3 separate regions of the Homo sapiens genome follow, and all the other regions are linked to region 1. Evidence: fine-mapped expression QTL. A gene starts in region 1. Each other region holds a variant in brackets. All regions are shown on one strand. Distances are between the middles of the regions. Region 1 holds the start of CSTF2T (cleavage stimulation factor subunit 2 tau variant). Region 2 overlaps PRKG1 (protein kinase cGMP-dependent 1). Region 3 overlaps PRKG1 (protein kinase cGMP-dependent 1).

Region 1 (2,770 bases):
TGGGGCCTCTGGGCTCTCCAATTAGCAGTCTGGGATCTCCTAATGGCCCTCCCCTCATCTCATGTGAGGAAGGGCCACGAGTGTCATGACCAGAGGCATGATGCATGGGGGGACCCTGATGGGGTGGACCCAGATAACCTCTGGGCTCCACTTCTCCAGTGACTGAAAGCAAAGTCCCTCCACGTGGGTCATTTGGAGCATCTCCTAACAGTCCTCGAGGAGGCAGACCACCAGGAGTCACGGGTCCGCGAGGTATAGGAGCTCTAGGATCTGACATCTGCACTTGTCCCCGCTCTAAAGGCACTGGGCCAACCCCTGGCATTCCAAGTTGGGGCTGCATTGCTCCTCCAGGAGTTAAGGAACCAGGACCAGCTCCGGGAACTGCAGCTGGTATTGGCCCTGGAGCTGGAATTCCACCCTGGATAGGAGTCTGCATCAGAGGAGGAATGTCCTTCACAGGTCTTCTAGCCAAATGCTGAGGCTGAGGAGCTGGAGGATTCTGCTGGTTCAGCAGAACATTAGGTCCTGGGCAGAGCCCAGGGCCAGGGCCAGGGCCAGGGCCAGAGACAGACACAGACTGAGATTTGCCTGGGATCAGTGGTGTGACATGTATCTTCCGATGCAGAATTTTCAGAGCAATCTCTGGATCCATGATTCTCATCACTACTTGTGCCTGCAACAGTGCATAAGCCAGTTGTGGATTTTGAAGTAACATGTTTCGAGCTTCCTGGTGGCTGTTTTGGACACAGAGCTTCATCTGCTTCATCAGCTCAAACATCTGCTCCGGGGGGAGACTGGCTACTGCTCTGGTAATCGATTCAGGGGCATCTTCTGGATCGATGGGATCCCCATAGGGTGAGTCAATAATGGGCGCTGCAGGCCCAAGGCTCTTTAACTCCTCCTTATTCTTTTCACTGGCAGCATTGTCCACCCGAAGCGCTCTCCCACTGAACTCCCGCCCATTGAGGTTCCGCATGGCACTAAGCGCGGTCTCCTGGTCTTGGTATTCGCAGAAGCCATAGCCCTTGGGTTTTCCCGTCTCTCTATCGTATACCAGCCGGAAACTGACAACAGAACCAACCTCCGAGAAAATGTCCTTTAACTGCTCCTCAGTTGCCTCATATGGAATGTTCCCCACGAACACGGAACGCAGTGATCGATCCATTGCCGGGTCTCTCACCGCCAAACTCGACATGATTCCGGTTGTGCAGACAGCCGATAGCGGATTCTTCGAGGCGTCTGTCCTCTTGCGACCGACACTTCCGCTGAGCAACGGAAGCGGCTTTCAAGATCCGGGCAGAAACTTTACTAATTCGCTTGAATCGTTCCGCTTGCCTGTGGAACCTGCATCCCACTAACAACTTATCTAATGCTTTCAGTCCCTGATCCTTCATGGTTCTGTCAGCTTCTTATTACAGAGTCGCATGATTCCTTTCCCATTTCACGTTCCGCTGACTTTCTGTGGGGCCCCAACAGCCCCACTACGACACGCTTGGTACGAGATGACCACAGTAAAGATGGCCGCATAGACTTCACCGTAGTAACTGGGAGGGGACTCTTCCCTTGACGTCAAAGGCGGTTTTGCTTCCGTTCCGCTGGCGGGAAACCGCCAACCGAAAGCGGATTTAAGGCGGCGTGTTTTTCGTTCTGACAAAGTATTTTCATGTGGCCTTTTATTATAGTATAGTTAAGCTAGATTTAAAATCACATTCCAGACTGAGGGAAAAGCGTAGTCGTTTCAGCACATTTGAGATTTGCCCCTTAAACTAAAACAGTATTATATCTCCTTTTTAGAACAACGTTTTTGGAAATTAACTGACAAGAAATATAAACTGAAGCGTGTGCCGGCTGGGCCCTGCCCCCATTCTGTTGCTTCCTATAACCGCTGTTAATGGATGGGTGGCAGACCCTTCTAGGTTTTTCCTGAGCACACGGGCAGCCGTCGTGCTATTCCTAATATTACGGTTTTCTTCCTTAATAACAACCGATTTCAATATTAATTGGTGATTAAATAAATTAGTGATTAATTAGTTATTAGTATTTTATGGCTTCAGAGTATGGAATAAAGAAATTTACTTAACTATCCCTACGTTGATTGGTTCTGATTTTTATTATATCATGCAGTGAGTCCACCACTTCCATGAAGGGAGAAACAAATAGCGGGTGTTTGTCTTCTGCTGTTAGCTTTGCAGGTAGGAGTTAAAACATATTCAGTGTGGTGTTTCCCCGCCTGCAATTCGAAGCTAGAACTGAAGCTTGGAGAGGGCTAGGTAAATTCCCAAGGACAAGCAGCTGGAAAGAGGCCAAGTCAGGATTCTAACCCAGCTTGGTCTCGCATAGCTCCAATTCTACACTGCCTTACGTGTATTGAATATATGAAATGAAGCTAGTGTGATTGAAGAAATGAATTTTAAATCTCATTTTTTATTTAAATATAAAAACTAATGTTCAGTAAGCTATTGGAAAACTTTTTTAGTATTTAGAACAACTTGGATATAGAATCTACTTTTGCAATAATAAATTGTGTTCTAAATAAAAATCATTTTGAAGAACACTAAGACAAAAAATAAAAACAAATAAAAAGAAAGTATTTCCAGTCAAAATTTAACATACTGGTTGAGGTGTGCCATACATGTAACATACATGAAAGATTTTAATGATCAAATACAAAAAAAGTAAAAATAGCCCATCAATTTTATATTTTTTATAAGTCGAAATGTAATATTTTTATATATTTGAGTAAAAAATTATTTTGAAGTTAATGTTATTC
Region 2 (2,770 bases), 220 kb after region 1:
GTCCCAATGTGCAGGTGGGAAGACTGAGCCTCAGATAACACAGCGAATTAAATGGGGAAGTATTTTACCCTATGCAATCCGACCCTGGAATCAGTACCTTTCAGTACTATACTGCATTGTAACTTGAAAGTTTGCGGAATTAATAAAAGAAAAACTTCTCCCACCCCTGACTCTTTCTTTTAAATAGGTTGTACTTCCTTCTGAAAATATCGACTTGACTTATTTTTTTTTTATTTTTTTTTTTGTGAGAGTAATTAGCTTTTTCTCAGTCAGCATTTTAAATTTGTTGTGACAGGGATCCATTTTATGCTTTCCACGAGACCCGAAACAAAGTGTTTCTAGACATTTTATTGCCAGAATATGCATGCTTTGCTCCATGCTGCTTGTAATTCATTAAAATGTATGTGCTCTGCAAATAGGAAACCAATCTGCAATAAATCAGCTTTCTAGAAAACATTCATGGAAAGTGTTCGAAATGGTTGCTCTGTAAGAATACACAAACCTGCTTGGTATTTGTGTGATTTGCTGTCATTTATGGGGTTTGTAAACAAATAGTGGATTTGTGTGAAACTGTAAATTAGTAGCCTGCCTTCAGCATGTGTGTGAGATCTGCTTACAAAATGCCATTTGATAGCATCTGAGCAGATCACGATGAGCTCCAAATTCCTTTTACAGGGACAAGTGATGCACACTGGTCTGAATTAGATAAATTGCCCTGACCCAAGATTTTCAACTATTTTTTTTTCTTAATCCGAGACATATTTGTAGCTGCCAGAAAACCTAGCTCACGGGCTTGTACACAGTTGGCATCTAAGGCATAAATCAATGAAGAATAGAAGCCCACTCGTGCTTACAAGTAACAGGCTAAAGATAAGAAAATCAGTTGGGCTTTCAGTTTTAGCCACAGAATACAAAGCTTGTTTGTGCTAGGGAGAGTTATCAAACAACGTGGTGCAGGAGATAATGTGGGTATTCAGTTCCAGGCCTCCCCAAGACCTTTGACTACAGAGTACTTCTCTGAATCCATAGCAAGGGCAACCTACTGCTTCCCTGCGGAAAAGGAATCATGCAGTTCCTTAGGCCAGGGGGTATAAGTCTGTTTCCTGGTAGATAAGGCTCTGAACCAGGGCAGGCAGTATTTTAGTAATGAGCATTCCTCAAATCAGTCAATGTTAATGAGGAACAAACCGTGACCAACCAAGGCTTTAGGGAGATGGCAGTTGTTGTGAGAAAGGATGTTCTGTTTGCCTCATGTTCTACGTGTTCCCTTAATTATTATGAGATTCTGTAAGTGAGCTCCTCTTCACTCTCTGGGAAGAGCTACCATT[C/G]TTTTTTATTACTTACACCTAAAAATTATTATTTTAATAAACGTAACATGATTTGTCTTGTAAATAGACCTGCTGTGCAATACCATTCTGCAGATTTTTTTTTTTGCTTTGACTTTGTGCAAATCAGTTTACATTACAGATGTTAATAATTGCTAGGCATGAGAGTGTTGTCTCTCCCTGACTCCTCTTTCCTCTTCCAAAAATGTTCTTTAAGGTCAAATTGAACAGCCCCCCACCTTTTTTTTTTAAAGTGGCTTACCCTGACTAATTCTACTCTATCCTGTTTGTTGTTTTCTTAATCCTTTTGTACAGTTTGTACTACAAAGCTGCATGCTTGATCCTATATTGCCTGGAACTTGTCTGTCTCCCAGTTTTCTGTAAGTACCTAAGCACAGGGTATGTCTTAACATATATCCCAAGTTTCCAGCACAGCAAGGATTTGTGGAAGAATTATGCCTGGTACTTATTAAATAAACAATAAATATTTGTTGAATCAGAAGTCTGAGTAGGCTTACAATAAATGCATACATGCTACCCGAGTGACCCAATGAATGAAACAAAATTGTTCTGTTTTGCATTTGGATGCTTTATTACCACAACTAGATTAAAAATGCATCAAGGACAGGGAGCATGCCTTCTGAAATACAAGAACTCATCATGAGGGCATGTAGAGTAGAGGTTGCTGGTAGGAGATTGTCAAGGATACACAATCAAGGTGGAAAACAAAGAAGGTGTGGGAAGCTAAGGACAGAAAGATCATGGGAAAGGAATAAGACTCATTTTTCTTCTATCATCCTTCTCCTTTCCCTATCCATCCCAGGGAGATATAACAAAGGCCAAACCTTTAGAAGGATATTTTGAAGAAGAAAGAAACTTTTGTAGAAGTTGTTGATTTTCCAGTATAAGGCCCCGGGGAGAGAGCTGAACTGTTGTCAGTTACTGTTCACTCCACAAGGATGTGAAGGCCTCTGATAGCCATCTTGCCGATTTCCCAGTTACAGTTTAGTGCTTGCCTATGGGAATCTCCTAATTAACAATCTTACAGTGTTCATGTCTTCTCTCTTTCTGTTTAGTTTCGTGTCTACAGAATAGAGATAGTGATCCTACATATATGGATATATGTATGCATATATGTGTGTGTTTATATATCTATCTTTATATCGCCATATAATTATAATGCCTGGGTTTGAATATTGGCAGCACCCTTTAATTGTGGTTCAATCATTCCTTAGCTATGTGATCTTGAGCAAGTTACTTAACTCCCCTAAGCTCCATTTGTTTTCTTCTGGAAAAGAAGGATAGTAATAATACCTACCTCATAGAACTGTTTCTAATTTTACTTTTAAACATAACTTTTTTTTCTCATGAGTAGACCTTATTATTTTTAGAGCAGTTTTAGGTTTACAGAAAAACTGAACAGAAAGTAGAGAATTCTCATATAC
Region 3 (2,770 bases), 450 kb before region 1:
TTTAGGTGATATTTTGAATGCTAATAGTGTTAGACTCAGGTTTTGTAATTTTATTTGCAAAACAATTCAACTTTCCCTAGAAAGGAGACAGAACATAAATGAAAAAAATGACCATTTATTAAAATAATCGCAAGTAGCAGCATATTATAAATTGTTATGTTTAACAAAGGACACTATACAATTTTTCATTCAACAGTACTGATTGAGCATCTACTATGTGTGAGGCACTGTTCCAGTGTTTCTGCAGCCCAGTGAACATGACAAACACTACTATCATTGTGAAGTGTGCATTCTAATAGCCGGGCATATTTGTCATCTTTGTATTCCAGGTGACACATTTGTAATTATGAACTCTAAAATGTCATATTGTGCTTAAGTGCCTTTAAAAGCGTAAGTAATATGTTAGATGATGCTTCATAGCTTAGAACATATCCACATGCATTTATGTAATTCTTATCATCTAGGGTACTTTGTTTATTAGAGGAGAAAACTGAGACCCTGGAAGTCTTACTGACATCATGAGCCTACAGTTACTGAATGGAAAAGTGAGGCTTGTCCCTCTCATTGCAGGGTTGCTGTGGTTTAACTCCCCAACCTACCCTAAACAGCCTTTTGGCAAAAGACCAATTTATTCAGTATACCTTGGGAGAAGGCAGATATCTAAATTTATCTTGCTTTTGGCAAGAAAATGAATATTTGGTGGCATAAAAATGATCACAGTTTGAGAAATACTAGGAAACATTCTATGAGAAACTAATGTTTAGCAACGTATCAATTTATGACATTTGAAAGAACTAAGAGTGAATGATTGCTTGAAACCTGAATTGGACTGCTGATCATAGAACAAGTTTAACCCATGGGAAAGTGGGAAGTATGTTTCAGAATGATGGAATAACCTGTCATGCAAAAGCAAAGACCTTTCATGGAGACTGGTGAATTCCCAGTCTCAGACTTTGATGGATGATTTTGTCAGCTGTTTTCTCTCTGAATGTGTTGTGTCTCCCAGCTTACTACTGAAGCAAGGAGGTTCACTGGAATTCACTTTTCCAAAAGCAGTCAGGGACACACCATCCTTTCTTTCTAAAGTTTGTGCCTTTTTCAGCTTAGAAAAGCACTTGCCTTTCTATCTCTGACAAGTGACTGTGCAAAACTCCATCTATGACAAAATGGAATTGTGCAAGAGTAATGAAGGGATGAGAAATGCATCTCCTTTGACAGGCCATGCAAACCCCTTTACTCACATTATTACAGTGATAGTTGTAAAAGGAGGAGGAAGTAGAAGAACTGGTATTGAGCTCCTAGTGTATGTGAAGCCCTCTCTATGCCTTCCAGCCCTACACCCTGTGTTGGTAGTGTTACTGTTATTCCTGTTTTATAGATAAGAAAGCTGAGGTGCTGGGAGAATACAGAACTAGAGCTGCGATGTTTTCCCCTCCTTTTTATGTTATTGTGTATTGCCTCCTGCCCAACTCTACAGACAGATTTTACTTCCTGAATGTTTATTGTGATATTATGTCTTAAATAAGGGATAGTTTTTCTGACTGCTTCACTGATACACATGAACCCATGTGTTCCACCTTTTATAATAG[G/A]TTTCCCATAATAACACATGGTAAACAACAAATTGCATTGCTTCCTTTTCCTATTTTAATATAGAGTCATGTCATGTTTTCCTTTAAGGCAGACCAGGCACCTGTTTCATAAATTGGCAAGGACATCTGCAAGTTGCGTCTTTAGTCTGACAGAATCAAGTCTTGGCAGGAAGTTGTAAATTTCTCTTTCTCTACAAGGTGTCAGTCCTCTTAAAAGCATTTTTTAGCCATGAACTCTTTGTGAGCATGGATTGACCTACAAGAGGAAATACCACTTGGAAGGATATGTGTAATTCATTTCCATTTGGAACAGCTTATTGTATCTGCCAGGCACTCAGCTGAATGTGCAGTGTTCCTTTATATCTGCATATTTTAAATAAAATTGTGATTAAGGTCATTAAAGACCCTCATATTAGAAGTGATCAAATGGTAATTGAATAAAGTTCAACTTATATGAAGAAATCTTTAGGAACACAGAAAAAAAATGGTCATTTTCTACTATATAATCTAAAAGGTATTTTTTACCCCATAAAGTTCTTAAGAACTCACTCCTTGGGAAGAGGTAACATACTAGCTAATTGGTATACTTCTGATATAGAATTCTGCTAAGAATCAACCTCTGGCTCTTAAATACTTGGAATAAAAGACATAACTCTACTCAAAATGTGTACGGAAGTTTTGTGGTTCACAAATGCAACAGCTTCTCCTAGATCTTGAGTTAATCAGCTACCGAATGCTGAAAGTTCTCTCCAGTCCTGTTATGTATTGGCCATAAACATGAGACATTGATATAATCATAATTTACTGCTGCTAGTAATAAATGAAGACTCAAGCAATAAGTAGCATATTACTTGCATATTTATGTTGCAGATAATATGCAGTATATTGCATACTATTGCATATATACGTTATTAGTCTAATGTAATTCATGTGTGTGTGTGTGCACATGCATGAGTGTCTTCTCTTTTGAGGAAAACTCCAGCTATGTCAGATCAGACCATATACTGGCACAATGAGCCGCACAGATGACAGAAGCAAAACAAAAACAAAAACAAAAAACAAAGTCTGGAATCTGAGTGCTCTATTGTATAGTATTTGTCTTCTAATAGACTAGGAATTGCAAGTCTTCAGGTGATAACACTTTTGTTATTTGGAATAAATTTCATTGATTTTTTAAATGT

The links. PIP is the estimated chance that this variant, and not a neighbour inherited with it, causes the effect. A credible set is the group of variants that fine-mapping cannot tell apart.
Region 2: its variant is the best candidate, but not a certain one, in a credible set for the expression of CSTF2T in whole blood (TOPMed, PIP 0.68).
Region 3: its variant is the best candidate, but not a certain one, in a credible set for the expression of CSTF2T in whole blood (TOPMed, PIP 0.73).

The regions. Positions count from the first base shown.
Region 1 is chr10:51,698,355-51,701,124 of GRCh38, forward strand. CSTF2T (cleavage stimulation factor subunit 2 tau variant) reads right to left here and starts at 1,241. Exons shown (of 1, transcript NM_015235.3): 1 at 1-1,241. The coding sequence starts at 1,195. All of the region lies in intron 3 of PRKG1 (protein kinase cGMP-dependent 1), which reads left to right. RefSeq lists enhancers at 929-1,508, 1,633-2,321 and a silencer at 2,075-2,369.
Region 2 is chr10:51,918,112-51,920,881 of GRCh38, forward strand. All of the region lies in intron 5 of PRKG1 (protein kinase cGMP-dependent 1), which reads left to right. Among named protein-coding and RNA genes, the nearest start is that of CSTF2T, 220 kb to the left of the region's middle. The variant C/G (reference allele first, on the strand shown) is at 1,329.
Region 3 is chr10:51,249,538-51,252,307 of GRCh38, forward strand. The region is part of intron 2 of PRKG1 (protein kinase cGMP-dependent 1); the gene reads left to right. Among named protein-coding and RNA genes, the nearest start is that of MIR605, 49 kb to the right of the region's middle. The variant G/A (reference allele first, on the strand shown) is at 1,590.